Linked DNA regions of Homo sapiens: all the other regions are linked to region 1. Evidence: fine-mapped expression QTL. A gene starts in region 1. Each other region holds a variant in brackets. All regions are shown on one strand. Distances are between the middles of the regions.

Region 1 (8,110 bases):
GTGGTAAGAGAAGGAAAGGATGGAGGGGGAGGAATACAAATAGAAGAGCCTCGTTAATCAACAAACGAGATAAACGTGGTCCAAATGATTAGAAGTATAACTGTCTTTTGTGATCTTTTCTTTGGCAGAATAGGAAGCTGACTTAACCAAAAATACTTGACTCTCACACAATATATGTACATCCCATATATTTTACATATACACATATTCCAAAAAGAGAGGTTATTTTTATAAAATACAAACACTAAGCAAAAATTATGCTAACTGAAAAAGTGCCTAGAGAGCCACATACATCCACGTTGTTAAATATAGAAACTAACTGTAATGAGAATCATTATCTCCAGTTTCCAAGGATACCAGGATAAGCACTACTCCTAAATTGCAGTTCATTCAGCAAAGGGCACAGAATAATTTATATTCAGGGTCATCCCTAGCTGAGAGCAGATGTGGAAGGAGGACCAGGGTAAATCACCTTGTTTCTTCTATTCCATTTGCTACCTGATCCAGTTCCCAGCCCTCGACCCCCACACTCTGGTCCCAACCTTGGCCAATGTTTTATGGAAGAAATTTGGAAAATCTGCTTGTAAATGGCAACTTCCAAGAGAAAAAGAATCTTCAAAGGGCAGGGCAGTCTGAGATGTGATTAATACTGGGGGTAGGGTGGGGGCTGGTATTTCCATTTGCTTTGTCTGTGAAAAGGAAAGGAGTCTGGGAGTCTGGTTTTGTGTGTCAGTCACACTAGTCGCCATCTTTCCCAGTGCCTATAAGGAAATTTCAACTTCCCACTCGACCAAGGCTATGCAAAGCTTGCCACTCATAAACTGCCATGGTCTCTAGAATCAAATTCAGCTTCAACTTGTTCTTCCTTCTTAGACTCTAGAATCTAGATCTTTCATAACAATTACTTTTTGTTTCTACAGCAATAAAAATATAAAAGCTACTTTCTGAAAACCTAGGAGATAGTGCCTCTGAATCATTTATTTGTTTATTCAAGACCACTTACTGTTGTTTTCAATGTGGCAGGCATTGCGCCAGGCCAGGCAGACAGGCATTACGCCAGGCAGACAGGCATTGCGCCAGGCAGGCAGGGACAAGAAGTGATAGATAAGGTATCAATAACAGGCCACGCCACTTAGGCAGTTTAAAAAGAGGCATTCTTCCTCTTAGTCAAATCGTCACTTACTAAAATACTGATGCGGATTTTATGGATACTCTAGATTTGTCTTAAACTTACAGAAAGTACATATAAACATACGATTCAGATATAATACCAATTTTCCATTTAGTTCCTTCCCCATCACCTGTCTACCCAATACAATAATAAGATCTGCCATATAGCACCTCAGCTAGGAGCAGACATCCTTCTAACGGGCAGAAGAGCTCTCTCTGCCTTCAAATGCTTCCTCTTAATGGACAGGAGACACTGTACCAAGATAAGCGTCTTAGCTTAATGTGATAATACAGGAGAATAGGCTATTTTGATAATGAAGGCCTTCTAGGATGTCCCTTCTTTGCAGGTTATATTAATCGATACTGGTCACTGTTTTTAAGAGGACGAAGGAATGAAACACAACAAAGGTTCCCAACAGTTACGTAACATATACAGTCTATCTCAATAAGGCAAGCTATTTTAAGATTAACAGTTAATACAAAATTTACTACACGTCCTTTCCTATATATTTTAGATGACTTGACGACTGCATACCTAAATGCATCCTCATGATAATGCCTGTACAGCCTCATCTTTTCCCAACAACAGACTCAAGGTTTTTTTTTTGGACTATTAAGCTTGTTTCTAAATCCCTTCAAGTAATAACAGCAAATTTTAAAACTATATGAAATAAAAGTCTCGGTTCTCTTACAACTTACATCAGTGATTATTTTGATGTATTATTATGACACTTTCTCACAAGGCGCAACATTTTGAGGTAAGATGGCTTCAGACAAGATTTTATGTCTGAATCTTGAGGCTTTGAAAATGCTGAGCTTGTGAAGGCTCAATATAATAGGCCACTATTTCATCTTTTCCCTCGTCCCACCCAAAGCTAGCACTTGGTAGGGCAAAAACAGACACTTTGTTAGGTGGAGCACCAAACACAGAAAGCATTCACAAGTCACTGGCAGAAAGGTCATTTTCTGTTTTAACATCTTTTTCTGATAACCCAGATCAGTTTTCATAAAACCCCTGAAGGTAGAAACCAGCTTACATTAAGCGACATCATTGTACTCCCTACTTGTGCATAATAATCAACTTTTTAAAAAATTTTAATCTTCAGCATTAAAAGTATCCTACCCACCAATTCAGGAACCTCGAACTCGGACTGGAGCCACTTCGCTCTCTGGATGTAAAAACCTCAGACGATCACCTCTTTTTTTCTCTCCCTACTGTTCAAACACCTAAATTATGGTTTAGTGTGTTGCACATGTCCTCAAAAATACTTTCTAGTAGCTCACCTCCTCCACATCCTTTTAAACTAGAAAAGTGTCCAACTGGCAATCCTCAAATCATAAAGGCAGCAAAAACGCCCCTGAGCGCTGTCACAAATTTTTAACAAGTGCATTGACGCCAACCAGCAAGGGATCCAGCTCCGCCGCCAAGGCCAGCACCCCCGCGCGGGTCTGGCGCAGCTCGGGGCCGGGCCCAGCTCAGCCCTTCAGCCCCCGGCGCGCCTCGCCGGCCTCGGCCTCCCCTCTCCACAGCGGTCCCGGGGACCTTCCGCCCCTCTAGGGGGTGTGGCCGAGGCGGCGGCGGTGAGCGGAAGGCGGCGGGAGGCTCGGCGGCGAGTGCGGGGCGGAGGCGCCACCTTAACCCGAGAGTTGGGAGGGGAGGGCGAGGGGCGTGCGCGTGGAAGAAGCTGCCCCGAGGCTGCTTTTAGCGGCGGAGCCGGCGGGACGCGGCAGGTTGGCAGCGCCCGGGGCGCATCCGGGGGGCGAGAGCGGAGGAGCGGCTGAGCGTCCCGGGACAGTCGGGGTGGGCTGCGCTGCGCTGGGGGCGCCGCGGCGGGGGGCGCACTCACCTATGCACAGCTGGATGGCGTAGGCGTAGTAGGACCAGCCGAGCAGGAGGGTGATGAACACCACCGGGATCCAGTACAGCACCCGCCGGCACCGCCGCCTGGCGCTGCTGCCCGGGCCCGAGGGCGCCATCTTCCAGCCGCATCCACCTGCCCAGCTCCGCCGCCGCCCGCGGGCCTGGCTCCGGGGCGGGCTGGGCGGGCCCGGCACCCCTGGCTGGACGGGCTCCTGGGCGGCGGCGGGGTGCGCTGCGGCCACTGCCGCCGCCGTGGCGCTAACTCCCCATCCCGCAGCCCCGAGCCGGCGCGGCGGACTCCCGGCTCCTCAGCCCGGCGGAGGCGGAGGCGGCGGCTGCGAGCGGAGGCCGAGGAGGCGGAGGGGGGCGGTGAGGCGGCGGCGTCGGGAGGCTGCGCTCCGCCCCCGCCGTTCCCCGCCGCCCGGCCGCCTCCCCTGGCGTGGCAGGCTGCGCCCTCGGGCGGGCTCTGCGGGGATGCGGGGCCCTCGCTCGGGCCACCTCGCGGGCTCCCACCGTGGCCCCGCCGCCTCCGGCTCGGCCTCTGGATTCCGGGGAGGCGGGGGCTGCTGGGCGCAGGCCCCCGGGGCGGAGCGGGCGGTGGCGGCCCCTCCCTAGGCGCCCGGCACCCGGGGCAGTTAGGTCGCGAGCGCTTCCGCGCTTGGCGCAGGGCGGGGGTCGGAGGCGAGGCCGGCGGAGCAGCTGCTGCGCTCGGGACTCCGCGCCTGCCGCGACCCAGGCGCCCTGAGAAAGTCTGCAGCACCGAGGCCCGCGTCCCCGCAGCCCGCGTGGAACCCTCGCGCTTCAACTTGCGGGTCCCTGGGAGCCCGCGGGGGCCGCAAGGAGCCTCCCTTTACTACTCGGGCTTTCGGGGGAAGCAGAAATGCACAGCGAAGAGGGGGTGCCGAGCCGGCGTCTGGCATGGGAGGGGCTGTGGAGAGCGAGGAAGAAGCATTTTTGGCTGTGAATCCAGGCACCTCTGGAGTTAGAAACACAAGTTCTTTGCTCTGAGAATGTTGATGCTTTGGATAAATGATTGTGACAGGGGCCGTTCCCACTGTCCCCTCCCTCAAGTACGGTGGTTCCTTCCACCAACTATTTATTCTTTTCCTCAACCCGCTCCTCACTACGGTGTTTACTTTCGTGGTGGCAATTCCAAACTTAGCAGATAGCTGACTCCAAAGCGGTTCCCAAAAAACACCGTAAGGGAACCTAAAGGTAGTCAGCCCAAACCTCTGATTTTATGATTCACGAAATGGAAAATAAACAAATGCCTCCTTTGCTTTTCCTTCATCTGATTATGAACGCACCTGATCCACAGGGAAACATTTCAATCAATGAGTGTGTGTAAATTATGTGCATCACTACTATACATAATAGGCACAATTTTTCTTAACATTAGTGAATATGTGTATTTACACCACACAGCAACCACAGTGAATGAAATTACTTCTTATTCATGTGTAGAAGTAAAAAAAAAATACTGATTTACATGAATTCAGTCAAAGAAATTTAGCTCTGGTGTCTGCGATTATCTTTCTGTGACTGGATTACACAACAAGCTAATCTCTCCCGAAATAGCTACTATGTTACAGCCCCCCACCCCACATCTCTTTCCATTTCTCTTCAAAAATGCATAGAAAATGTCAGTCAAGTTTCTGTGGGACTTTAAATAATTGAAAAGAGAGACATATTATGTCCCAGTGAATCACTTGATTTTGCTGTAGCCTTTTATATTCTCTGTGGATATTCTGTATATTAATGTAAAAATAAAACTTCTCTGGATTCCTTAATGTTTTCCATGAATATTAATCCTGTGTTCCCCCCCAATCAGAAGAGAGTAAAAAACAGGAATTAAAACTTCCTCCTGGGACTGAAATACCCTCACAAAGAGAAGCAAATCAGTGACTGAAGGTCAATAGAGACCATCAAGGTATGAAAAGGAAGGAATCGGATTTTCCATACTGGAAACGGTGGAGAAAGTGCAAATAGTGCCTCTGTAGATCCTGGATGCGACGATGCCCTGTGCTCTTCCTCCTCTCACAGTCCTACAGGGTCTTGAAATCGGAAATGGAATAGCATTCTGCCCAGTTTTCACATCATCTACCCTTTTGGAAAAGTATGCAGGTGTCATATCTTTGAAGGAGCTACATTTTTATTACTCATCTAAGATGTTGTTTAATTGTTCCTATTTATAATAAATATTTGTGAAATATTTTCAACTTTTTTTTGTTATTGCCATTTTAAGGATACTACTATTACTGGGTTTTTCAAGTTCTCTTATCTTAAATACAGAAAAAGTCTGGATTAGGAAGAAGCATCTCCACAGCCACAAGATAACAGGATTGATCTCTGCGTAGTCTCTAATTAGGCATAAGCAGCACGCACAAATGTAAGCTCTTTGGTGAGTAGCCAATCTCTAGATACTAGTCTTTGATGAGAGTGGAAGGAGAGCTTTTATTTTGAGGTATAGAGAGCCTTTGATTTATTTTCTTTTTCTTTAGGACTACATAAACAGAAAAAATAATTTGAAGGTCATAGACAAGAAGAAACTTCACTAGAGACTTACTGTTTAGAAATACAGAAGATTCAACTCACGAATTTTAATTTAAATGTTCAATAAGCATAAGAAATTGTAGGTTTCATGTATAACTGTGATTAAACTGATATGACCACTTATGAAAAAGAAAGCCAGCCACAGCAAAGGAGGAAGAAGGCGACGCTAAGGAAGAGAAGAGACGAGCGGACAGCCAGGCAAGGAGGGGGGTGAGGGGAGTGACTGAGAACGGGAGAAAAGCCCCCTTGCTGGGTTCATCCAGTCCCTAATGACCATGACTCCATCCTCGCTAGGCCTCTGCCTGTATGCTCCTTGCACTCAGCGGTCTAGCAACATCATTCACCTCTCAAATTTTCACAACTCTTATTTTCAGTTCCTGCCCCATGAAGGAATCTCTCTTTTTTTGGGGGGGGGGGGCGGACAGAATTTCGCACTGTTGCCTGGGCTGGAGTGCAATGCCGCCATCTCGGCTCACTGCAACCTCCGCCTCCCGGGTTCAAGCGATTCTCCTGCCTCAGCTTCCCGAGTAGCTGGGATTACAGGTGCCCGCCACCGTGCCCGGCCAATTTTTTGTATTTGTAGTAGAGACAGGGTTTCAGTATGTTGGCCGAACTGGTCTCAAACTCCTGACCTGGTGATCCGCCCGCCTCGGTCTCCGGAAGTGTTGGAATTACAGGTGTGAGCCACCGTGCCCAGCCCAGGAACCTTAAACGTTCCTCCTCTCCCTCCAGCCCAGTCCCCCAAATTCTTGAGTTCCCAAACCTCAAGTCTGCCGTACTTTCATGATTAATACTGCTAATCTTCCTTCTGCCTGCAGATCCAGATTACCATTTTAACATAGTCCCTTGCATAGTATGAATCAAACATAGCATGCTAGCCAAACCCAGGAAGGCGTGGACGCACCTGCTGCTAGAGAACACAGATCCCCCTTAATGTTGCCTATGCCAACCTCATCTCAAGCTTTTCAGCCAAAACACCTACCAGAAACTATTAGGACACTTGCTTGATATTTACTCCTTCCTTTTGGAAGGGTTCTTAGAGGGCAACATTGCAACAAGATATGAGGTCAGTCGTATTAGTCTCATGTATATGAGACGTTGATTGTCTTGAGTTTGCTAAGAGGGTATGATACTTCACAAATACAAGGAGTTCTAAATCTTACAAGGATTGGAAGCAATGAAGCTGAGGTCTGGATCTATATCTTATTTACTAATGGCTCTCCCATCCTTACTAGAGTGGTCTGCATGAATACTGATAGATTCTCTTTCATTATTTTCTCAAACTTAATCTTATCACTCTTTTGGGGGAGAAGAGCTCTTTAGAAGGCAGCAGTCCATGACATCAGTGACTCCAGTGTCAATGTGCATGTTTATAATAGCGGTCAAAACATTCTCTGTGGGAGAAGAATAGCATGCCTAAACCACTTTTTGTTTCTGGAGATACATAAAATAAAAGAAAAGGAATCGCGCTTAGGGAATGTAGGAATGAAGTAATGCTTAGATATGTTTTGGCTGTCAGAGATTTATGTTTGCAATTCAGCTGTAATTATATTGAATAAAATGGGAGATAATTTCAAAAGCCTAAGGATGTCTCTGTATACAGTTGATTGGGTCGAAACACTGGGACAATGTAAAGTGGAGCAAACTGTCCCTGGCAAACCTGCCTTTCAGGCACACTAGGGCTTTCACGGTAGCATTAATGTGTCCTGCCACTAGATGGCAGGCACACACCAAGCAGTGCAGCAGTCTTCACCTTTTCTCCATAGATTTCAATAGTTATCAACTGTTAGCTTAAGCAAGGCAATTATAAATATGAATTATAACTTCATGAACAATTATATATCATTGTAACTAATTATAATTATGTTATAATTGGCCAGGCGCGGTGGCTTACGCCTGTAATCCCAGCACTTTGGGAGGCCAAGGCGGGCAGATCACCTGAGGTCAGGAGTTTGAGAGCTGCCTGGCCAACATGGCGAAACCCCATCTCTACTAAAAATACAAAAAATTAGCTGGGCGTGGTGGCGGGTGCCTGTAATCTCAGCTACTTGGAAGGCTGAGGCAGGAGAACTGCTTGAACCTGGGAGGTGGAGGCTGCAGTGAGCCAAGATCACGCCAATGCACTCCAGCCTGGGCAACAAGAGCAAAACTCCTTCTCAAAACAAAAAGTTATGTTATAATTATACAGTTTTTATATTATAATTTAATGGCTAACGATTAATAAAAACGACAACCCTATTCAAAAAATTTAAAAGACTTAAAGCATTTTTCTATATAGTAAATCGTTCTGATTCTGCGTGCACTTCTTTAGAATTCGCACTAAGGTCAATCTCTTTGGAAATAAAATAGGAAATTTTCATTGAAATAATATTTTTGCTTACACTGTTTCCCTTCTTTGCCCCTAAATGGGGAGGGGCACTGTCTATGAACCCAAAAGGTGAGCAGACATGTCCTTCCAGTGGACTGACACAGCTATACTATGGATCTCTAAGGGGTGATACAATGTCCGAAGTTCAACTGGAGATT
Region 2 (8,110 bases), 68 kb before region 1:
CTGAAAATGGCTTTTAAATGGTTGGGAAAAATAATCAAAAGATTATTTCCTGACATCTGAAAATTACATGAAATTCAAATTTTAGTGTCTATAAGTTTTTATTGGAATGCAGCCACACTAATTTACATATTATCTATGGATACTTTTTTGCTATAATGGGAAAGTTGAGTAGCTGCTACAGAACCTGTGTATGTGTGTCTTGTTTCACATTGCCGCTTGGCAAGCTACAGAATCATGGTGATGCAGATATTACCTGAAAGCATTTGGAATGCCCTGTGTATTGCTAGATTTATTACTTTTTCTGCTACCAGTTCATGCCCTGTATCTCAGAACAAGAAAAGTACCTTTGAATGTTACACTTTCAAGGCACATTGGAATATGGACTATTTTATTATATGCTGGTACATTGTGTTTATAATGCAGTGTCACCATAACTGGTAAAAGAATAGACTGACAGTATCAGACTAACATCACAATATTCCCAACTGGTGGGAAAGCAACAGTCAGAAGAATTAGAAAATTTAAATGAAACATCACAGCAAAATTTCACAAAAGTAATAAAAATGAGGCTGCAACCAAAATGTTTACAAGTAGCCTATTTGTTAGCCAAGCAAAGAAAACCATTTACTAATGCTGAATTACATCGTGCTTGAAGATAGTAACCAACCCAAAGACATGTGTCCAGAGAAAATTAAGACATCAGCCCTTTGATGAGAACAGTAGTTTGAAGAATGAGGATTTTGGACACAACATCAAATGACACTGTTAATTCTTTGCCTCTTACTAGTCAGTACTGCCTAGCTTTATTTTTTGAGAAACCATTGCTGGATTTGAAGTGATCGAAGAATTTGTATGGAACTACAAGTGGGAATATTTTCAAAAAAGTTGATAAACAGTACAACCTGAAGTGGAATCTACTAAGATGTGATGCAACCGATGCTGGGAAAAATGCATGAAGCAGAAAAAAAGTTTATTTGGTCAAATTTTAAGGCTTGTGAAAACGTAAGTTGTTTAAAGCCTGTAGTTACTCACTTGATTATTCATCAGCAGGTACTTCACAGGAAATATTGGTGTTACTGAACTGGTCAACAGTTAACTTCATTTGCTCTTGTGGACTTAACCATCTTCAGTTCCATGATTTTTTTTTTTTTGTGAGAAACAGAAGCTGAATATCCTGATTTGATTTGCCACACAGGCGTTCAATGGCTTAGCAGTGCTAAAGATTTATTTTTATTTTTTTGGGCTCTGGGCTGACATTGAAATTTTTCTGAATGAGAAAAACCATCCTCAACCACTGTTTTTTAACACTGAGTAACTTTGGAAATTAACTTTTGCCACAGACTTGAAAATGTTTCTTAATGAATTTGACCTGAAATTACAAGGTACAACAACATAATATGGTAAATTCATTTCAATAAAAACTAAAACTTAAGATTGTCAAGCTGCTTTATATACTTTCTGTGCTATGAGAAGTCAAAACAGCGCTGTATTGCCAAATCCATTTTTAGTGGATATATTTTCCTGTAGCAGTTTTTTGGACCTTGATGCAGTGCAAAGAAAATTTTTAAATTTTAAAAGCATTTAACTGCAATTAAATGCTTTTAAAGTTTCCTCTTAATCTTCTGTTGGAAATGAATCATCTTGAATGAATGACATGCTAAAGGGCAAATACCAAAAAGATGAATCCTACAAATGCCTTACAAGTGATGAATATGCTTAACTAAAATCACATGCTCATGGGTGGATGTGTCAGTATTTAGCAGTACCTTGACCTGTTTGTGTGAAAAGACATTTTCAAAGATGAAATACGTGAAATCCCATTACACATCAGCATTAACAGATTAACATTTTCTATTTATTCCAATGAGGGGATACCAACTTTCAGCCCAAATTGAGCAAAATGTTACCTCCCGTCCCCTGCCAAAAAATCCCATTATTCCCATTAGTAGAACTCTATTACTAAAAAAAGAAAAAAAAATTGTACTCAATATTTTGAGTTTTCAATTTTTAGAATAAAAATTTGGTGAAAAGTTTCCTTGAGTACCTAAATAATGTCCTTCATTTTGTCTTAGCTTGCAAAGCCTCTAATATTTGCTACCTGCCCTTTTCAAAAAAAAAAAAAAAAAAAAAAAAAAGGCTTGTCCACCTCTCTACTAGAAGAAACTCAAGGGTCTATGTCTGTCCTGTTTGCTATTTCATCTGCATTGCCAAATGCAGTGGCTCCTCTGGGTAGGCAACCTGAGGTGGAATCAAATTATGAATGCATATGTTATCTCATGTCTATAAAATAAATGTGTTAGAATTTATAAATAAAGGGATAGGAAAAATGCTGATTATTCTGTGTGTCGGTGCTTTGTAGTGAAGGCCAGTTCACACATGCCATTTGCTATGTTGGTGTAATTTATATGAGAGTTTCTTTTATAACAACGTTACCTGTCATTTATTTTTCTATTAAGACATTATAGAAACGTAGGACTGTACACATCCAAATCCTGCAGAATTTTCATTTCAGGTTTTGAAAGTTAAAAAAATGTCACCATAGAATGAAAATTCCAAGAAAACAAGATTCATGTACATTATCACTAGACAATTTCCATTTGTTTTAAACAGTTTTCTACAGCATTAGTTACATTTAACGTTTAGTATAAAAGCAATTGAGCAATTTCTCTTTAGAAGTCCATTTCATTGCTTTGTAGCCATAGTCTGTAGGTGAATGAACAAGCTACATTTCTCCAGAATTACTCATTTTCTTTTTAAAGATAAACTGGTCAATACTCTCCTTCCTGGTATGGAGGAATTTTTTGTATATGAGAAGCATTCATGAATATAATCTGCCCTCTTGCTTTATTGTCATAGGAGGGGAAATTCACTGCTTTCACACCCTTCTGTTTTGGCTCTTTCTCCCAAAAGATAAGAATCTTTATTTAGTATCATACCAAGAAATTGGAGTTCCTTTAGCTTCAGACTATCATCATGGCTTCCAAATTGTTAGGAAATACAAGTTTGCAAGACCCCAAGGGGACTTAATATTTTACATCTTACTAGCCATGTCATAGGTTTTAAGTGCTTTTAATGGGGAACTGTTTCACTCATGCCATATACCTGTTTTGTTTTTCTAAAAAATTAATACTGTAAGTTGTGAGCAGGTGTCTTGTATCACTGCGAAACCCATGCATAATAAAAACTTGTTCTTGAGCTATATGTGTGTATACAGACTTTCCTTCCATTCATTGTAGCCATTCTGGGGCTGTCCTCTACTTCTTGCCTAAGTATATGTTTTTTAAATAACTTTAGCACATTTGCATGCTACTCCAAGATGAGTTTATAATTAAGGTTGCTTTTTAAAGTATTCAGCTTTCACACAATAAGTGTTTGATTAGTTCATTTAAGATGTTTTCAATTAGGGAGCCATACATACTGACAGAAAAAGACACAAAATCTAAACTGACAAAATAGCCTTGCTCTCATAACTGAGAAAAATACAACAGGAGAACTGACGCATTCTGTAGTATCTTTTTAAATTCAGAATCAACGGAATTTTACCTTGAAGCATTATGCGTTTTTTTTTCAATTGATTAAGCACCTTTATCAATCAAACAGAAGCAATATATTAAGCATTAATAATTTCAGGTAGGATTCAGCTCCTTGTACTGTTAAACCTTCCCCGGAAGATGCAACATAAATCATAGGTTTTCATAAACCATAAAGTAGTACTATTTTTCCTGAGCAAAAGGGAACTAGCCATAAACCAGGGCTTAAAATAACTTATTAAAAGTTTCCCTTTGGTTTAATTGCTACTCAAATCACTCAGATGATTAGCCTTAACAGACATTTTCCCCCAATTGTAAACAATACAGAAATACTGAATACTGGCTATGAACATCAAAAAGATCTATTTTTGAACATTTTTCACCAGTTTGTTTTTGCCCTCACTTTCCTGCAACAAGAAAGGTCTGCAAATGATTAAAAGTGTCTTCTGTTGGCATTGCCCAGGTTATTGTATTTGAACTTTTTGCTGGTATAAGAACAATTCTCAGCGGTGTTGGTGATTGAGCTATTAGATACCTGGACTGCATCATCATAGTTCTTTGCTCACATTTCAAGGAGACTATTTTGAGGAAGGAAAAAAAAAATGGGTGCCCTGTTTCAGAGTCTCCTGAAACACTCAACATTGTTCTGGGAGATACTTCATATTCATAGTTGATTCACAGGAGTCTCTTTGAAACAAGCCTACTTGATTTCATCCTTTCAGTGATGTCCACTGTTTACAAGCCAGGGCACTACTACAATAAAAAAATCTTATGGAAAAGAGAAAAGGAAAATGCATGGTTTGCAACATTATAAGGTTTAACAATTTCCTGTGTTCTGTAACAAAATAAGATCCTTTGGTAATAAATTCTAAAGGAAATCTGGTGGGGAACAGATTGCTCAGTTGTAAAATCTAGGTTAATGTTGGCTTCTACTTAATGCTTTTCATGGCGTTACAAGATCATATTGCTAACACTTGCAATAAAAAGTAGAATCTAGGAATTTTTACCAAGACAGTGAGAAAATTCTAATGGTATCTTTGTAAAAGAGTAATACTTCAGGTATGTAACATAGTCTCCTTCCACATATAAGAGGAAATCGGTGCTGAACTGGCTAAGTATGTGGAAAAGAAGTGTAAAACATTTGGGATTAAGCCACGTGGTTTTCTGCTTTAGAAGAACACGTTTCTGCAGAAAGATATTAAACACGTGTTATTTGTGAAAAATCCACTTGTTTAAATGTCACTTTGGTGAAAATATTCACAGATCAGAATCTGTAGTCTAGGTGTGTGGGTGGGATGGTTGTGCTGGAGGACACCATCATGATTTACAACGTAAACTGCTTTGCATTTACCATTTTCTGAGGTTTGTATCTATGTTTGATCAAAGGTATCAGAACCATCACTTTTACAAACAAGTATTTGACCATATAAGTAAATACCAAATGATACAGTACAATTTCAGAATCAGCCGAGCCCGTTTACATGCATTTCAAAATAGGGAAAATCTGCTAGTTTATAACA[T/C]AATGGAGTAACACTTTTTTCATATATTTTCTTGAAGCATGAATCACATGATTGCGTGCCTAATTTTTTATAAACATGATTTATATCTTTGATTTCCCTAGTTAAGTGTTTGTCAACATATGCCATATTTCCAATAGTTGTCTATTGATTACAGTGTAGTTGAGTTTTATAGTCTGTTTCTAATTGTCCTCAGAATCACTTAACTACTACAAAGTAAATACCTTATTTTCTCACCACCCCTCCCAAGACCTATGTTATGGCCACATTGAAGACATGAATTTTGCCATTAGTAGCTCTAATAAACTATTAGGAAAATTTATGCTTAAAATAATTTACATTGTCAGTGCAAAGGCAGTTTCTTATAGACAGATAATGTAGGTGATCAACCACTTTATTAGGGTATATTAGGAGTGAATTCATGGATATGAACTTCATTGAATGCATCATGATTATATTCAGATGCAACTGTTCTTTAATATATCTTTGAAATAACAATCCTCTTCCCTACATAATAGCAAATAACTAACGTATATGAAGCATTGGTACACTATTTTTAATGCAAAATTTCTTAAATCTTGATTCCTATATAGTAAAATCTATAAAAGCAAGAAAAATCAAAATTATCAGTTTAATGGACAATAAGGACAGTTGAAGTATGTGTCTTCAAGTTCGAGTTAAGCCATTAAATTTTTTAAAGTAAATACTTAAAGGTAAATTTTATATAAATATGTACAAAATGTAGATCTATTTATTTAGCACTTTGTTCACTCAGATAAATTTATATTGCATATCTAATGAGATATGCAATCATCTCCAAAGATTATAACTCCTATAATTCAAAACAAAACAAAACAACCCTTTAAAGGTTATTCACTATATGAAAACAGAAAGGGAACAATTACAACAATGAAATTGTTTTAACTTTTTCAAATCTGATTCTAATGTGTATTGACATATATTTAATTATATAAAAGACTGTGGGAAAGGGGCATTAACAGTACTCTAGAAGAGTAAAGGATAAAAATCCCTCTTTTTCCCCTAGCTTCCAGTTTGACAAGAGGGAATACTTAATCGAATCCTGTCCACAAAAACAGCTAACAGTACTGTGCTTTGAAAAAAAAAAAAAAAAAAAAACAAACCTGACTTCATATAATTCTTAATACATCCTGTGCTGCTGTTGGTTTTTTTAAGACTTCTAGCAGTAGCTATAGGTTCCGGTCTGGCACTTTAGGTATTTTTAAAAATGACCAAAACGTGCTCTAAAATGAAAGTTAAAATGTTATCATATTTTCTGAGATTTCTTGAAGCAGATTGTCAGATGAAACTCTTCAGCATAATACAAATCTGTGAAAGACTGCAGATATTTCTATTGTTCAAAGAATTGCACTCAAACTATAAAATGGACTTGGCTGACATTGTTTCTTCCATAAGCACAATTAATATAAAACTATATTTTTAGGAAGGATAAGTAATTGCAATGATCTTTTATTCCATTATCCTCTGGCCTTCTAGTTTATTTTGTGTTGAATGTTTGGTTTAACAAAGATTTTGAAAAGTTTATTACCATTTTCTCTTTGATTAAATACCAATTACTTAGTTGGTCCAGTTTTAAAAGGTAATCTGCTTTAAATTCTCAAAATCAGTATCAAAAAAGCATACAGAGTATTATTCTAATTGTTAACATTTACATGAATTATACTGGACTCAAATAAAAAAAACTTTTTTTAAATAGTGCATACAAGGCACAAGAGCTTATTATATTTACTGAAGCTGAACATTCTGGCATCAACACACTTTAGTTTATCTCAAACTAAATTTCCAAATAGCATGCCATTTTAGTTCATGTTGAACTAACTTTCCAAAAGTTGTATGATTTTTATTTAATGATTTGCATAATTTAACTGTAATAGGTGTTTAAGGAAAAATATAGTTTACCTGTCATCATTTTGATGAGACGAGAAAGAAATAATATAGATATCACTGGAGGGTAAATCTATTGACCTATTAGGAATTCTTAAGAGAAATTCAATAGTTTTACTATGTTCAACAGGAGAAATAATCTAAAAAGAGATTTTTAGAAAGCCAAACTGACAAAAGAATGTCATAAAACAATCTTCATAATTGCTATCATAAATTTCCTCCCAATTTAACAAGAAGAGATGAAAATATATTTCTGATGTAATAGAAATGTACCGTATTCTGACAAAAGTATTCCAGCCAACTGCTTTGAGAGCTCAAGCTTCAATGTCCACACTTATTTTCCAGCAGAAAACAAAAGGCTGGAATTAAGTGAGGCAAAAATGGTTGATGATCTTCAACTGCAGGCCACCTGGACTCTGTAATGAATTCATAATTATTACAGTTCACTCAGTCTGAGGCTGGATTCACATCAGAGGAAAAAAAAGAAGTATGGTTTGCCACTTCCACCTTCTTAAAGGTAACAAGTTTTATGAATAATGCTTATCATTATAATGTGACTTGAAATCTCTGAAATCCTAATATCTTAATAGTCTCAATTTTCAGATTCGGAAAATCAGATGATTAATGGAGTTTCTATGTGATAAACTGTGCTACCCATATATTTGGGTAAAAACTGGTCCTTGGATTTATTCCAAGTTTTTTGGAGAAGATGTTTTCCCCGTTGATTAATAAACCAGAACTACTTTTAATATTTAATAGGAATTTGTGTTAGTTGTAACAATGTGTGTATTGGATCCAAAACATGTTATATTTTAAGCAATGGCTTGGAGAGAACTAATCAATTCATATTCTGCATTTCCAGCCAAAGGGACATAGGCACAACTGACTGGTGGCACCTTCCTGTGGGAAGCCTCTTCCATCCATCTACAGCATTGATACCTTGAAATGAAACAGAAAACATGAAACTACTATGTTAACCATAAACACGCAAAACAAACCAACTCATTTCATAATCTGTTTCAATAATATCCCTCATTCAAAACTGTTTACTATGCTAGCAGGCTCAGTAGACGTGCTCTTGAATATGGAACTCTACATCAATACTGCTCAAACTTTAATATGCATATACGAAAGGATCCT
Region 3 (8,110 bases), 52 kb before region 1:
AGGCATGATCTAGTAAAAAACTCTGATGCCCATGAATGTCCCTGTGAAATATATACACTGGGCCCATTCACTAACTGGTAGGGTCTGGCCTGTACATAGCTCACTCTAGGGATGGGGTGACAAATACCTTTCATCTCTTTTGACAATTTAAAAGGATTTTAAATATAAATTCCTTTTACATTTAATTCCCAATTTAAAAGGGCAGAGGCAGGAGGATCGCTTGATCCTGGGCGGTCATGGCTGCAGTGAGCCATGATCACTCCACTGCACTCCAGCCTGGGTGACAAGAGAGACCCTGTCTCAAAACTAAAATGGAAACAAACAAACAAACAAACAACAACAACAAAAAGAACTTTAGAATGGCTACCAGGAACACTGCCTTGAGGTTTATGGGGTCACTCCAGGCTCCCTAGGAAAAAGTCCTGTGATCAGTAAGAAATGTTCAATATGGAGTGTTGGTGTGGATACTGTGTATGTGGCACTGCAGCAACTAAGAAAAGCTCTAACGTTTAATGAAGAATGATATTATGGTTATGCTTTTGCTACTGGCTTTCATTGAAAAATCAGAGGAATGGTTATACTCAAATCTGTCACAAAGGTATAAAAACTGGTGTTTCAAACCACTGAAAATTCATACATAGCATTTTAAAAGTTTAAGTAACTTTTCCTTTTGCCAGTTGGTAGCACGTTCAGAATGAAATGTCAGGTCTTTCTCTGGCCAGCCTCAAATTCTTGATAGTCTGGAATCAAAACAAACTTAAAGCTGGAGCAAAAGTCTCCAGACAATGAATTTCTAAGACTCTGGCTTCTCTCTCCACAGAAATGGCTCAGATAATCCTTAGAGGTCTTCCAAGGGCACTAAGTCCATAATATACATTAAAATGGAGTTGTCAAGAAGGTGTCTGGGGGTCCATTTGATCTCCAAAAGCCTCAAGTTTCTTTACTCTAACAGTTATCACAGAAAGGAAAGATATGGTGGGTCAGGGGCGATTTTACCCTGTCTGCCTACCTGAGCAGTGGGTAGCTAATTTTGACTTACATTTTTTTTTCTTTTAAGCACTACATTTAAAAAATATTTCAGTCAACCAAAATGTATAGACAATTAACACCTTTTTACTCACACTTAGATTAATAACACCATTTTACAAGTATAATTGAAGCTTCCAATGTATCCTCAATCATACTTTCTTTTTTCCCTCATTTCAAGTGGAAACCATTGCAGTAAATTTTCTTATGGTCTTCATTTTTTTTCAAAGGAACATATAACCAAAAGACACAATATGGTAAAATATCTTATTTGAAAGTAAAATGAAAAAAAATATGAGATTACTTTTTAGCTGTGGAATTCAGCCCTGCAGGAGTAGATGCTTGTTCAGGATCCTGGTTAACAAGGCAAGTTGGAAAGGAGCAGCCATCACCTAGACTAGAATTAAAATAAAAATTTAGAACTGAACCATACAAAAGACAACGGAGTGAAACCCTGCCAAAATGCTGATGTCCGAGAGCAGAACATGCTATACTCTAGGCAAAAAAAATGTGTATTAGACATTGAGCTCAACATAGTGTTCAGGAAGATGATGAATTAACTGACTTCCACACTGATATTATGGTGAATCATAGAATAATATTTTTTAAAAATAAGAGTTCCTACACAGAATTACAAGCCTATGGAACTAGAGGCTTTTCCTGAAACTATCTTTTGCTGTATTATTTTCATTAGTTTAAAGCCTGAAAATTTTAACAAAGAAGTACCTTGAAAAAATGGGTAGCAACCAGTACTTCTTCTCATCACCAAAAACTTGTCGCATGTTTTTACTGAAACCCAAGCTGAATCCATTCTTATCTGTTCCATGTCGAAATACTGGACTTCTGAATGCCTCTAAAAAAAGATGGTAAAGGAATCACATGAGTAAAGAACATATTTACTAGCAATCCTGAATATTTATCAATAATTGAAGTAAATGAAGAAACTCTGAAAATCAATGGCTAGCTGACTGTGAGGGCTTATGTGCCTGTCAACAGCCCTGAAATATAGGGTGTCCATTCTGTTTTAAAATATCATAAGATATACCTATTTTAATTTTAAAATATGCCTTTTTATTATAATAGTACATGTGCATTGTAGAAAATCAGAAAATACAAACTAGCAAATAAACTAAAACTGCATCTTCTGGATCTTTTGATCAATAGATAGATAAATGGATGGATCCATAAACATAGATCTACAAATCTACACGTGTATTTTTTAAGAAAACCACAATCAGACTATCTTTTACATACATTCTACAACCTTTGTTTTTAAGTAAATCCATTTGTTTATTTTTGAGTCAGGGTTTCACTCTGTTGCCCAGAGTGGAGTACAGTGGTATGATCATAGCTCACTGTAGCCTCGAATTCCCAGGCTCAAGCAATTCTTCTGCCTCACCCTCCTGGAGCAACAGGTGTCATGCCACCATGCCTGGCTAAGTATTTTCCAATTTCGTTGAAATTGGTTCTCATCTAATAAAATTTTTCCAGCTGACTATAAAATCTACTTTTAAACTAGTTTGTCCAAACCGGGATCCAGTCCAGAACCATGTATTGCATCTGGTGATGCTCATTCTGCCTATCGAAGCTGGTTCAGAGAGGCTCTGGGACTTGCCTAAGGTCACACAACAAACACACGACAGACTGAGACTTGAATAAGGTCATCAACATTCCTTCAAAAATACTACATTTTCTTCTTGAATCATGCTGAAATACAAAATGTAAAATGTTGTTTTTGGAATATGAACATGGAGGTATAATGATTTTTCTCCATTAAAAAGAAAAATCTAACCAGCAGAGTTAGGCACTATGAAAAAATGTGGTCATTTGCAAGATCCTTAGCATTCTTCATCCTAGGATACATAGCTTTTTCTAAAACATTTCAAAGGATCATATTATCCAGGGGAAGTCCTTTCAGTGCTACAAGTTAAATCTAGAGGTTTCCAGAAGTTAAAAACCTCTAGAAACAATAAATTTGCTTTTGATGAATTACAATTTAACTGCCTAACACATAATTTGAAATAAAATTCCTGGGCTTAGAAATTACTTTATCAGTATTTTCACCCTAATAGTATTTGGTGTAATGATTTCATTTGAGAATTCCATAATGTTTCATTTCAAAATACTGAAAATGAACACTAATTGACTACCCACTGTAATTAATCCTCATTGCATATTATAATAACTGAAGCTCACAGCTTGGAGTGTCCTTTATGATCATCAGCATGTGTGGTCCTGGTTGCATTCCCAAACTCCTATCCTTGAGCTAGAAACTCTACATAGCTTAGTCCTTGCTTACCTCTCCAACCTCATTAATGTATTTCTCAATCTTTAGCTTTCTATGCTTCAGCCACATGGAGTGTTTCTAAAATATTCCTAGTGCCCCTCATTAGACTGTTTTGCCCCTGCTCACCACTATATCTATATATCTATATGCCACTATATCTATATATCTATATATAGATATATATATAGTCTCATATATATATACATATATATGAGACAATCAATAAATATATGGAATGAGCAAACCTGTATGTGTCTAAGCGACATATCAAAAAAACAATGAGGAAAATAAGAATGACTTTTCCCACCACTTCAGGGCAAGTTGGCATTTAATCACATAGCAACTGTCAATGAATGTTGGTATACGTATTTAAAGTTCTGTCAACTACAATAATTGGATACTCACCTAATGTAGATTTATTTTTGCTGACTAGCCAACAATGATAGCCAAACAGAGAAGACAAGCTGACAGAAAACATAGCTGCAGCAAAGAATAAAAACATAATATGGAACTTGGCTTGAGTATCAGGTAGGCCATTCTATAAAGAAAGGAAGAAAATAACATGTTTTGTCAAAGGGATATGTATTCCCCTACTTTTATAAGTAAATTAGTAAGATTTTTTTTTTTGCTTAAAATTTTTCTTAAATTTAATATAAAAAAATGTGGCTTTATGTTAAAACTTTAGGAAAAATATGCATATATTTCATCAGGTTAAAAGTTTACGAGAATATGAATATATATGAAAATGATATTAAAATTTGGAATATAAACTGTGTTTTTCATAACCAAATCATAGAAAATTTATGGTAGTATATGTATAAACTGTAATACGAAGCAAGATAAATGGAACTATAAAATGTAGTTTTAAATTTATTAACGGAGTATGTTTTGTTAACATACTACAGAATCACAAACGTTTAAATAGTTTCATTATAATGCCAGAAAATGAAGGCTAACTGGCACAATTTGGCTACTATCCTTATTGATGTTTTATGTTACTACAAACAACAGCATCAACTAAATGAATACATATAACAACACATTCACAATAATGCTTCAAGCTATCTTAAATAATAGCACCACAGAAAAGATCAACACCAGTGCATAACACCTGTCTAAAATAAATGTTAATATCCATGGGCTGAAACAGTCC[A/G]TCTCAAAGAAAACCAGTTAGACTCTCATTCTCTCATTGTTTATAAATCCAAAGAGACCTGGAATGGCTCTAGAATGGAGGGCTTGGGGCTATGGACACCTATCGAAGCACCATGGCTGCCACGAGGTGTCTCTTCTGATAAATGGTCCTGAGATTCCAATACCCTGTCGTCCCTGACCAAATGACACCGGTCACAAGACCTCACTGACAGTTTTCAACAGCAGCAGGTTTTTTTGACAGCGAAAATTCTGGTCATTCCTTTTCATATATGTTTGTGGTTTGAAACTAAAATCATCCACAGGAAGGAGGAGCAGTGAGGTAATGCTCTCCCAGACATTCATTACGGTTCATTTTTCAAGCTGGACACTGAAAGAATCCTTGAATGTTAGCAGCAGGTCTCTTCACTCATGTCTTTCTATGCTTAGCAATAGAATTGGCACACAGTAGGCATTCAATAACTCTTTGGTATTAAATTTGGTTCAAATCTCACATAAGTGATCTAGCAATTTAGAAATTCTTACCATAATAAAGATAATTTAATGAAAATAATACATCAATCCTGGCAGCAGATAAATTGCTTTTTTACTGTCATTTGGTGTTCACAAGGAGGACCTGTGGATATCTTAAATCCTCAATTTTAATTTCTTTTTGCCTACATTTAAAATATATAGTGTATAAAGCATAATCAAGAAATACCGAATAAAAATTCAGGATATTATAGGCATAAGGACATTATAGGCATGATAGTTTAAAAAATAATCTTCTTACACATAAAGAAAATACTTCTATTTTTAAATCCTGAAAAAAATCTTATATAGTCATCAATTCTCGTTATTTGCAGTACTTATTTTTTATAAACTTTCCACAAACACTGAACTTGTGAACACTGAAAAACTGCTCCTAGGGAAGATACAGGGTTAGGTTTCTATGAACCTCTGGTCACAACATCTTTGACAACTGATCAGTGTGTAACCTTGTTTTATGTGTGTTTCTACTTAAACGCACCTTATTTAATATACATTATTGATTTATTAATATAGAACTCATAGCTAACAGTACTATAACTCATGCCTGAATCAAGCTTATCTAATACACCTATTTTCTCCATAACACACATCGGTTCTCTTTTGTTTAGAAACATTAGACCACACTTCAGCACTACACTTTAAGATTTTTTGACAGCAAAATCACCAACAAAAAGCACAAAAATGGAAAAAAGCATGGCACTAAATAGACTGTGGAAAGCACACTTGTTTATAGTATGAGAGCTGAAGCAAGAAGGCAAAAGCATCGTCTTGTTCAACCTCAACTGGGAATGGGCATGGGGGCAACTCAATGTTTTTGCCACTCTGCACATGTCTGCAGATGACGAAAGCTGTCAGTATCGATGTGGGGGTTACAATTACATCTTACTGAATTAACAAATAAAGAATCTGCGAATAATGAGGACTGACTGCATGTCAATGAGCTCTGGTCTATAAAGTCAGTGTCGGAAATAATTCTGTTCTGAAAAGCCTATATTATCTATTATTGTATACCAAAAAAAGAGTTACCAAGTTAATGACTTACTGTCCAAAATTTGATAAAATACTGTAAATCTGTTGCCGCAATAAAAAGGCAGTAGAGCAGAGAATAAGCCAAGAAAAGGAGAAAGAACTTATAATTTGAAAATCCAACACAATTGTTCACCCTGTTAACAAAACAAAAACATTTCCAGTGAGTTTTACATCTTCAACCTACATGTGCATATGCTCAAGCAAGTGTTTAGCTTCCTCTCACTTCTAATTTATTGGCATTTCTTTAAATATAACTCATAAGATTTCTTTATGCATACAATCATGTAAAAATCCATTTCACTAAAAAATCTGCTTCTATTTTTAAAACATGATATTTAATATTGCTTTAGTCAATCACAAACAATGTAACTGCATGTCATCTCAAATTACGCAAGTATGCACATCCCTCAAAGCACAGAGCCTGCGAGAAACCGTATCAGGCCAGGCAGCTTAGGTGAATTTACTAAACCCTTCCTCTACGCCATCTTTGGGTTTGATATCCAACTATGATTAATTAAGTTACAATTTTTCAAGTATTCCCAAATTAGATGGAATATCTTCACAAATTACTCTTTGCATGCCTTCATTGAAGCAAGCGGACTGTCAAAGCATATTAAATGGGAGCTTTAAGAAAAGAAGTAGGCCTGGCAGTTAGACAGCTGGGTCAGAAGGCCCATTTGACACTAAGTAATGATGTGGCCCTGAGGAAGTGAAATCATCGATTAGAATTTCATTTTCTTTATCTGTAAGTAAAACACTCTGAGGTCATTTCCAAAAGTCGGCTCTAAATATGCTATAATTCCAAATATGGAAATTTATAAATCTCAGTTCTCACTCCAAAGTCGTTATCTGAGGGGGGACAAATCAAACTATTGTATCAATAAACCTAAGTACAAATACAATTCATTTTTATAGGCTCACTTTCTTTTTGTTAAGATTTTTCTTTTTTAAAAAATTATTTATTTATATTTTATTTTACTTTAATTTTTGGGATACAAGTGCAGGTTTGTTAGACAGGTAAACGTGAGTTGTGGGGGTCTGTTGTATAGATTATTTCATCACCCAGGTATTAAGCCTAGTATCCATTAGTTGTTTTGCTTAGCCTTCTTCCTCCTCCCACCCTCCTCCCTCCAAAAGGCCCCAGTGTGTGTTGTTCCCTCCTCTGTGTCCATGTGTTCTCATCATTTAGCTCCCACTCATAGGCTTATAGGCTCACTCTCTTTCTATCAAAGTTTTTGATTTCCTTTTCATAAAGACAAGGGCACTACTGGATGACCTTGTGTCAATGTGATACATCACCCATGTGGAATTGGCTAATACCTTCATGGGTTGAGTAACTTCTTGGTTAACCGGTATAACGAACCTATTAAATAGAACATACAGGTTTCCTTTTCTAGTATTCAGCCTATTGCACAGAACATACACATATTGTTTCCTTTTCTCAAACGTTCTTGTTCCCCTTCTAACGTAGGTAAAAATCATCTCACTCTCCATTGACTTAGCTACTAAGATGAAACACTTTTCTTTCTAGATTTGTAAAAATGAAACCATGTTCATGTGAAAAAAATGTTTACATCATCTCCCTCAAAAAATATAAGGTAAAGGGAATAGCATTAGATTTAGTAATTTGTAAACTTAAAGGTCTTACATATGGGCAAATAATTTATAAAGAAGCCACAAGTTGGCTGGGCGTGGTGGCTCACACCTGTAATCCCAGCACTTTGGGTGGCCGAGGCAGGCAGACCACAAGGTCAAGAGATCAAGGCCATCCTGGCCAACATGGTGAAACCCTGTCTCTACTAAAAATACAAAAATTAGCTGGGCGTGGTAGTACACGCCTGTAGTCCCAGATACTCGGGAGGCCGAGGCAGGACAATCGCTTGAATCCGGGAGGTGGAGGGTGCAGTGAGCTGAGATTGCGCCACTGCACTCCAGCCTGGCAACAAAGGGAGACTTCCTCTCAAAAAAAAAAAAAAAAAGAAAAAAAAGAAGCCACAAATTGTGCGTGCACATTGTATGGAAACAGTTACATCTGCATCTCTAGAGGTTCCAGTGGGGGGATGCAAGCCTGTTGCTGAGGTTGCCTTT
Region 4 (8,110 bases), 37 kb before region 1:
ATTTTTTATTTATTTTATTTTTTAGAGACAGGGTCTCACTCTGTCACCCAGGCGGCAGTGCAGTGGTGCAACCACAGCTCACTGCAACTTCTAACTCCTGGGCTCAAGCAATCCTCCACCTCAGGCTCCCGAGTTGCTGGGATTATAGGCACAAGCCACTGTGTCTGTTCATTAATGAGATATTTTATATATATTTTTCATACTAAGTCTTTGAAACCAGTGTGTATTTAATACTTAGAGCACATGTCAGTTTGAACTGGCCATACTTCAAGCGCTCAACAGCCACATGGGGCTAGCGGCTACCATAATGGACAGCACAGGTCTGAAGTCACAGAAGCTCTGGGCAAGTCTTGGTGGGTAAGCATCACTAGTCCATATACATCAGTTTTAAGACAACTGTTTAAGTGGATAGTTGTCAAATTACCTTAAAATATGTCCCAAGTAAGAGATTTGTTAATTTATTGCATTTGTAAGAAAATTTTAAAGATAGATAAAAAATTATACCAATACCTAAATGAAATTTTACATCACCTATATGACTGTTCTAAGTTTACGAAAAAATACATGTAAAAGTATTCATTTTATATTCATTACAGATACTGCTGCCTTAAATTAAATATAAATAGGAAAGTCTACAATTAAAACCTTAAACATGAGTACTACCATAAATCAAGATTTCAGCAGTTCCCACATCTTCACTGAGTCATAACTAAGTAGGCAGAACAGGATTAAAGTCAGTTCTGATTTCCTTGCGATCTCTGTGCCACAGTGCTATTCGTGTTTCCATTCTGTTTTATGGAATCACACAGGAAAGATTTAACAGCAATCCAAGAAATAACACAGCATTCTGAAATGAGTGTTTTACCATTTCAAGTACATAAACACACTTTCTTACAGTCACCTTAATGATGTTATTTGCATACCATTGCAAAGCACTCATTATCAACATTTACCTCCAGACATGGTCCTGGTATAGATGGGAAGATCCTTGGCTGCTCGCCTAAGAACTTCCTGATGGGCTTCTCCTCTTGGCTCTCTCTCCAACAAATCTTTCTCTGCATAAGAGAGATGGAACTGTGGAATACATTTAAATCTTAATCAGTATTTTCAAAGAAATTATAACATATTGGTCTTCTCTACCATACCCGGAAAAGGGTATTTATAAAATATTAATGGTATATTGTACATTCAAAGAGACAATAGAGTTTGAAACGTGGGCAAGTCTGTTCACCTCACAGGTCATTCATTTATGCATCTAGAAAAAGGGTATAATAATCATCATCATAATACAACTGTACCTACTTCCTCTGGTTTTTGTGTAACTCAAAAGGAACAGAGTACATAAAAATGCTTATAAACCGTAGAGTTCCAACAAAATATGAGTTACATTGATAGATAAGATGGCCCAATGAATAAACATAACTCAATGAATAAATTTTTCATTTAGATCATTAAGAACAAATGTAGAAAATCCATTAAGCATATCTTCTTACCTAAGTGAGTTTTAACTTAGGGATAATCCTTACATAAAATCTCCCCCAGCACTTCTAAAGGGTCTAATTATTTATTTTACTTCTTATACTGACAATTTTGCCCAGCTAATTTTAAAATATTTGAGAAAAAGAAAATTTGGGCTTCTGTTTAATAATATGTATATAAATACATATCTTCCACACAGACACACATACACCTGTATAAATTTCTATAAATGTGCGCCAGGAGACATGTACAAGAAAAATCTCAGTATCATTGTTTGAAATACAAAAAAAAGAACACAACTCAAATGTACATCAAAAGGATGATGGATAAATTGGAGTATGATATATCCAAATAATGGAATAGTACCGGCATTTAACAATTAATAAACTATAGCTGTGTATAGCAAAGGAAAGAACCTCAGTATACTGAACAACATAAAACAATCTTATAGAACATATATACAATGATTCATTCATATAATTTTAAAACCAGCAAGCTAAACAACATATACACTGTTGTTGAGAGATACATGCACATGTGATAAAATTATAAAGAAGAAAGAATAACAGAAACGCAGGATAGTTGTTAAGTTTTGAGGAATAAAGGGAAACAGCTGGGAGATGCACAGCAGAGATGGAAAATATGAACAATGTTTGACATACTGGCTCGGTGGCTGCTTAGGTGTTTTCACTTAATTATTCTTTAAGTAGTGCATTATATATACGTTCTTATATATTTTGTATATATATATATTTATATATTTATATATTTTGTATATATACAAAAATATGTATAAAATATTTTACAATTTAAAAAACTTTAAAAGTGATATGTCAGTGAAAGAATCTACTATAAAGACAGAGGCACACATATGTTTATTGCGGCACTGTTCACAATAGCGAAGGCTTGGAACCAACCCAAATGCCCATCAATGATAGACTGGATAAAGAACATGTGGCACATACATACCACGGAATACTATGAAGCCATAAAAAAGGATGAGTTCATGTCCTTTGCAGGGACGTGGATGAAGCTGGAAACCATCATTCTCAGCAAACTAATACAAGAACAGAAAACCAAACACTGCACGTTCTCACTCATAAGTGGGAGTGGAACAGTGAGAACACATGGACACAGGAAGGAACATCACACACCAGGGCCTGTCGTGGGGTGGGGATCTAGGGGAGGGACAGCACTAGGATAAATACCTAATGTAGATGATGGGGTTGATGGGTGCAGCAAATCACCATGGCACGTGTATACCTATGTAACAAACCTCCACGTTCTGGACATGTACCCCAGAACTTAAAGTATAATAAAAAAAATGCTAATAAGCCACTGATGGACTATTACATTTAAAAAATGGGAACAGGTACACTCTGAATACCAAAAAACACTAAAAGGTTTTTGACTGCAGTCTTTGGATCTGTGATGGCATCTCTGAACCCGGCCAGGGCCGGAGCAAACTCTCTACCCTGAAGGGAAGGACCCAAGCCTGGCTGACTTTGCTACCTACTGACTGCAGAGCCCTTCAGCCTTGAGCAAACGCAGATGGGGGAGGCAGGCAGTGGACATAATGGGCCTTGGGCGAGACCCAATGCTATCCTGACTTCGGGTCTGACTGAGCACAGTCCCAGTGGTGTTGGCCACAGAGGTGCCATGTCACCCCTCCACCAGCTCCCGGCAGCTCAGCAGAGAGAGAGAGAGGCTCTGTTTGTTTAGAAGAATATAAGGCAGAAGAACAAGAGTCGCTGCCTGGTAATCCAGAGAATTCTTCCAAATCTTATCCAAGACCACCAAGGCAGTACACATCTACCAGTCTGTAAGAACCACAGTATTACTGGGATTGGGGTATCTCCTAATGCAGATGCAGCTTAGATCACAACACCTAACCTGGAAAGCCTTCCCAAGGAGGACAAATACTAAAATGTATATGGAATCACAAAAGACCCAGAATAGCCAAAACTATCCTGAGTAAAAAGAACAAAACTGGAAGACTCACATTACCTGACTTCAAATTATACTACAGAGTTTAGTGTAGGGGAGTAACCTAAATAGCACGGTACTGGCGTAAGACTAGCATTCGTACACAGTAACCAAAATAGCATGGTACTGGCATACATAGACCAATGGAAAAGAACAGAGAGCCCAGAAACAAATCCTTACATCTACAGTAAACTCATTTTCAACACAGATGCCAAGAACATACACTGGGGAAAGGGCAGTCTCTTCAGTAAGTGCTGCTGGGGAAACTAGATATCCATATGCAGAAGAATGAAATGAGACACATATCTCTTGCCATACGCAAAAATCAAAATGGATTAAAGACTTAAATCTAAGACCTCAAATTATGAAACCAGTAAAAGAAAACGTTGGGGAAACTCTCCAAAGCATTGGTGTAGGCAAGGATTTCTTGAATCATACCTCACAAGCACAGGCAACCAAAGCAAAAGTGGACAAATGGGATCACATCAAGTTAAAAGGCTTTTGCACAGCAAAGGAAACAATCAACCAAGAGAAGACACAACCCACAGAATGGGAGAAAGTATTTGGCAACTCCCCATTTGATAAAGGATTAATATCCAGAATGTATAAGGAGCTCGAACAACTCTATAGGAAAAAAATCTAATAATCCAATTTAAAAATGAGCAAAAGATCTGAATAGACATTTCTC[A/G]AAAGACGACACACAAAGGGCAAACAGGTATATGAAGATGTGCTCAACATCCATGGTCATCAGAGAAATGCAAATCAAAACTACAATGAGTTATCATCGTACCCCAGTTCAAATAGCTTTTATCCTAAAGATAGGCAAAGGGCAGGTGCAGTGGCTCATGCTTATAATCCCAGCACTTTGGGAGGCCAAAGCGGGAGGACCATTCGAGCCCAGGAGTCTGAGGCCAGCCTAGGCAACATAGTGAAATCTCATCTCTACAAAAAATTAAAAAAAATTAGATAGGCGTGGTGATGCATGCCTGTAGTCACAGCTACTTAGGGGGCTGAGGTGGGACTATTGCTCGAACCCAGGAAGTCAAAGCTGCAGTGAGCTGTGATTGCAGCACTGCACACCAGCCTGGCCAACAGAGCAAGACCTTACCTCAAAAAATACCAATAAAGTAAAATAAAGGCAATAACAAATGCTGGTGAGATGGTGGAGAAAAGGGAACCCTTGTATACTGTTGGTGAGAATGTAAATTAGTACTACTACGATGGGTTTCTCAAAAAACTAAAAATAGAGCTACCATATGACCCAGCAATTCTACTGTGAGTATATACCCAAAAGAAAGGAAACAAGTATGTTAAAGAGATAATCTGCACTCCCATGTTTATTGCAGCACTACTCACAATAGCCAAGATTTGAAAGGAAACTCAGTGTCCATCAATGGATGAATGGATAATGAAAATGTGGTGTTTACTTACACAATGGAATATATTCAGCCACAAAACAAAGAATGAGATCCCATCATTTGCAACAACATGAATGGAACTCGAGGTCATTATGTTAAGTAAAATAAGCAAGGCAGAGAAAGACAAACTTTGCATGCTCTCACTTACTTGTGGGAGCTAAAAATTAAAACAACTAAACTCATAGAGATAGAGAATAAAAGGATGGCAACCAGAGGCTGGGAAGGGTAGTAGGAAACTTGGACATAAGTGGGGAAAGTTAACGGTAACAAAACCAAAAAAGTTAGAAAGAATGAATAAGGCTGGGCGCAGTGGCTTATGCCTGTAATCCCAGCACTTTGGGAGGCCAAGGCGAGTGGATCACTTGAGGTCAGGAGTTTGATACCAGCCTGGCCAACATGGCGAAACCCCATCTCTATTAAAAATACAAAAATTTGGGCCAGGTGCCATGGCTCATGCCTGTAATCCCAGCAGTTTGGGAGGCTGAGGTGGGCGGATCACGAGGTCAGGAGTTTGAGACCAGCCTGGCCAACATGGTGAAACTTCATCTCTACTAAAACCACAAAAAATAGCCGGGCGTGGTGGCAGGCACTTGTAATCCCAGCTACTTGGGAGGCTGAGGCAGGAGAATCCCTTGAAACCAGAAGGCAGAGGTTGCAGTGAGCCAAGATTATGCCATTGCACTCCAGCCTGGGTGACAGAGCGAAACTCCATCTCAAAAAAAAAAAAAAAAAAAAAAAAAAAAGAATGAATAAGACCTAGTATTTGACAGCACAATAGGGCGGCTACAATCAATAATAATTTAATTGTACATTTTAAAATAACTAAGAGTATAATAGGATTTTTTGTAACACAAAATACAAATGCTTGTGGTAACTGATACCCAATTTACGCTGATGTGATTATTACACATTGCATGCCTGTATCAAAATACCTCAGGTACCCCATAAATATATATATCTATTAGGTACTCACAAGTTTTTTTTAACTACAAAGAAATTCAGAATGTAAAGTGCTTGAATTGGTGTAACGGATTTTTCTCTTTTTTCTTTTTGCCTAGTCTTCATTTTCAAAATATAATTTAGTGCGGTTGTATTACTTTTATATTGAGAAAATCTTACCAATGAAAAACTATTATCACTTTAACAATCTTGCTATGAAAAGGGCAAATTTTAATTCACATGTTTTCAGTTCAGGATCCTCATTTTACAAGCGAGAGGTCTCTAACAGCTGATCAATTAAAAGAATAGCCCAAGACCTTGCGTTTTATAAAGGGAATATTCTAAGGTTCTTAACCACCAGACAAGGGCTCTTTCTTCCTAACAGTGGTCTCCAAACTCTTTTGATCATGTTCCCCTAACCGTAAAAAATTACGTGAGATCACACTGCTAACAGATGAGTATTTATTGGTATATATTCTTTTCTTTTCTTTTTTTTTTTTGAGACGGAGTGTCGATCTGTCGCCCAGGCTGGAGTGCAGTGGTGCGATCTCGGCTCACTGCAACCTCCGCCTCCCAGGTTCAAGTGTATTGGTATATATTTTATCAGCTAATAGCTTATGTACCTCATATACAAAACTTTAAAAAATAAAAATATTAAATGAATAATACGTAAAAAAATTTTTGCTATTTTTCCCCCATGCTTCAATTGAAGTCCTGGGCACTCCCACCCATTGTGCTTGCTCTCCATACTAGAGCATGGTGTAGTGAAAAGAAAGTGTCCTTAAGGGTTGAAAGGACTTTTGGTTGAACCTTAGCTCTCCCACACAGTAGCACTAGATACCTTAATTGTTTCATGTTCAAAGCCAGTGGCTCCATCTGTAAAATAGTAAAAAATAGTATCTATCTCAAACAGTTGTATGACTAAGGTACGTCTTTTGTAGAAAAATCACACAATGAAGCCTGATACCGTTATAATGTCACTGTCATCGATTTGACTGCTCCTTCAATGCTGTGTTCTTTCTTCCGTGTGTTTCATATCCTTTTGCCACTCTGTCCAATCCACTATTTCAAACCTTCTCTACTCTCCCAACCCTTAATTAACCCACTTAGGTCTTCACTGTTAGCCAATGATGTCATATATAATTTTAGAGAGAAGTTAGAAGTCACTTCAACTTCCTGCCAAGGCCATAAAAATAAACCTGCATGTGTATGAATAACTTCTTCCCTACTTTTAGTCACTTAAAAAGTATCTCTTGAGTACCTTCTATAGGTCAGACACTGCTTTAGGCACTGGTGATGAAGCAGTGAACAAAGATACATTTCACGCCCTTATGGAACCTACATTCTAACGATGGTGTATTTTCAAAAGTATTCAACAAATAAATATGCAGTGTGTTGCCATGATGGTAAATGTTATGGAGAAAAATCCAGGAAGGTAAGGTGCAGGGAAAGCCGAGGGTAGTGGGGTTGCTATTCTATGTTGAGTCATCACAGACAGCCTCAATGATAAGGTACCATTTGTATAAAGACATCAAAAAGGTGAGAGATTTGCCTTGTCTTTTGAAAGGATCACTTTGGCTACTGTGTTGAAAATACACAAGAGGAGGCCAAAAAAAAAAAAAAAAAAACATAACAAAACACCAAAAAAAAAAACCCAACAAAAAGAAACCTGTTAAGAGGCTACTGCAAATCTATAAATGAGAGAGGATGGTGGCTTGGACCGGGGTGGGAGCAGGGAGCAGTGCGGCACATGAGTTCACATTGTGGCCATACTCTGAGGGTGAGGGTATAGAATTTTCTGATTGACTAGATGTGGCGTCCGAGAGAAAAAGAGTAGCCAAGGATGACACCAATGTTTCTGGCCTGAACAGAAGAGTGAAACTGTCATTACTGACATAAGAAAACTTTAGGACTAGAAGAACTGGGGAATTAAATGAGAAATCAGAAGTTTGTTTTCAGTTGTGTTGAACCTGAAATTTCTATTAGATGTCAAATAGGGAGCTGGAAATGTGTCAGGCGTTTATTAGCAAGCACCAGGCTAATATATTAATCTGAGAGCTGCGGCACTGGGGTGACACATAAAGTCACAGAACTCAATGAAATCCACGAGGGAATAAATGCAGGTATATAAGAAGAGAAGTCCAGGGATTAAGCTCTGGAACATTCCAATGCTTTGGCAGTCTAGGAGCTGAAGAGGAACCAGCAAAGGAGGCCAAGAAGGAGCTGCCAGTATGAATGGAAAATAAATATATTATTTCCATGAGAAAGGGGTAAGAATATTTTGGAAA

Direction of the effects. Alleles are on the strand shown, and positions count from the first base shown. SD is a standard deviation of normalised expression in the study named. Not every link is listed here.
With allele C in place of T in region 2, the expression in tibial artery of the gene that starts at base 3,389 in region 1 is lower (small effect, 0.18 SD a copy in GTEx).

What was found. PIP is the estimated chance that this variant, and not a neighbour inherited with it, causes the effect.
Region 2: its variant is the best candidate, but not a certain one, in a credible set for the expression of ZDHHC2 in tibial artery (GTEx, PIP 0.55).
Region 3: its variant is the best candidate, but not a certain one, in a credible set for the expression of ZDHHC2 in blood mononuclear cells (TOPMed, PIP 0.61).
Region 4: its variant is the best candidate, but not a certain one, in a credible set for the expression of ZDHHC2 in lung (TOPMed, PIP 0.77).

The regions. Positions count from the first base shown.
Region 1 is chr8:17,151,761-17,159,870 of GRCh38, reverse strand. It overlaps ZDHHC2 (zDHHC palmitoyltransferase 2), which reads right to left and starts at 3,389. Exons shown (of 13, transcript NM_016353.5): 1 at 3,018-3,389. The coding sequence starts at 3,147. RefSeq lists a silencer at 2,571-3,930.
Region 2 is chr8:17,220,055-17,228,164 of GRCh38, reverse strand. It overlaps ZDHHC2 (zDHHC palmitoyltransferase 2), which reads right to left. Exons shown (of 13, transcript NM_016353.5): 13 at 3,366-7,909. CNOT7 (CCR4-NOT transcription complex subunit 7) reads left to right here. Exons shown (of 7, transcript NM_013354.7): 7 at 1-3,199. Among named protein-coding and RNA genes, the nearest start is that of CNOT7, 23 kb to the left of the region's middle. The variant T/C (reference allele first, on the strand shown) is at 5,051.
Region 3 is chr8:17,203,701-17,211,810 of GRCh38, reverse strand. ZDHHC2 (zDHHC palmitoyltransferase 2) reads right to left here. Exons shown (of 13, transcript NM_016353.5): 7 at 6,036-6,156; 8 at 3,719-3,851; 9 at 1,753-1,879; 10 at 1,331-1,423. Among named protein-coding and RNA genes, the nearest start is that of CNOT7, 39 kb to the left of the region's middle. The variant A/G (reference allele first, on the strand shown) is at 4,467.
Region 4 is chr8:17,188,468-17,196,577 of GRCh38, reverse strand. It overlaps ZDHHC2 (zDHHC palmitoyltransferase 2), which reads right to left. Exons shown (of 13, transcript NM_016353.5): 4 at 954-1,074. Among named protein-coding and RNA genes, the nearest start is that of ZDHHC2, 36 kb to the right of the region's middle. The variant A/G (reference allele first, on the strand shown) is at 4,154.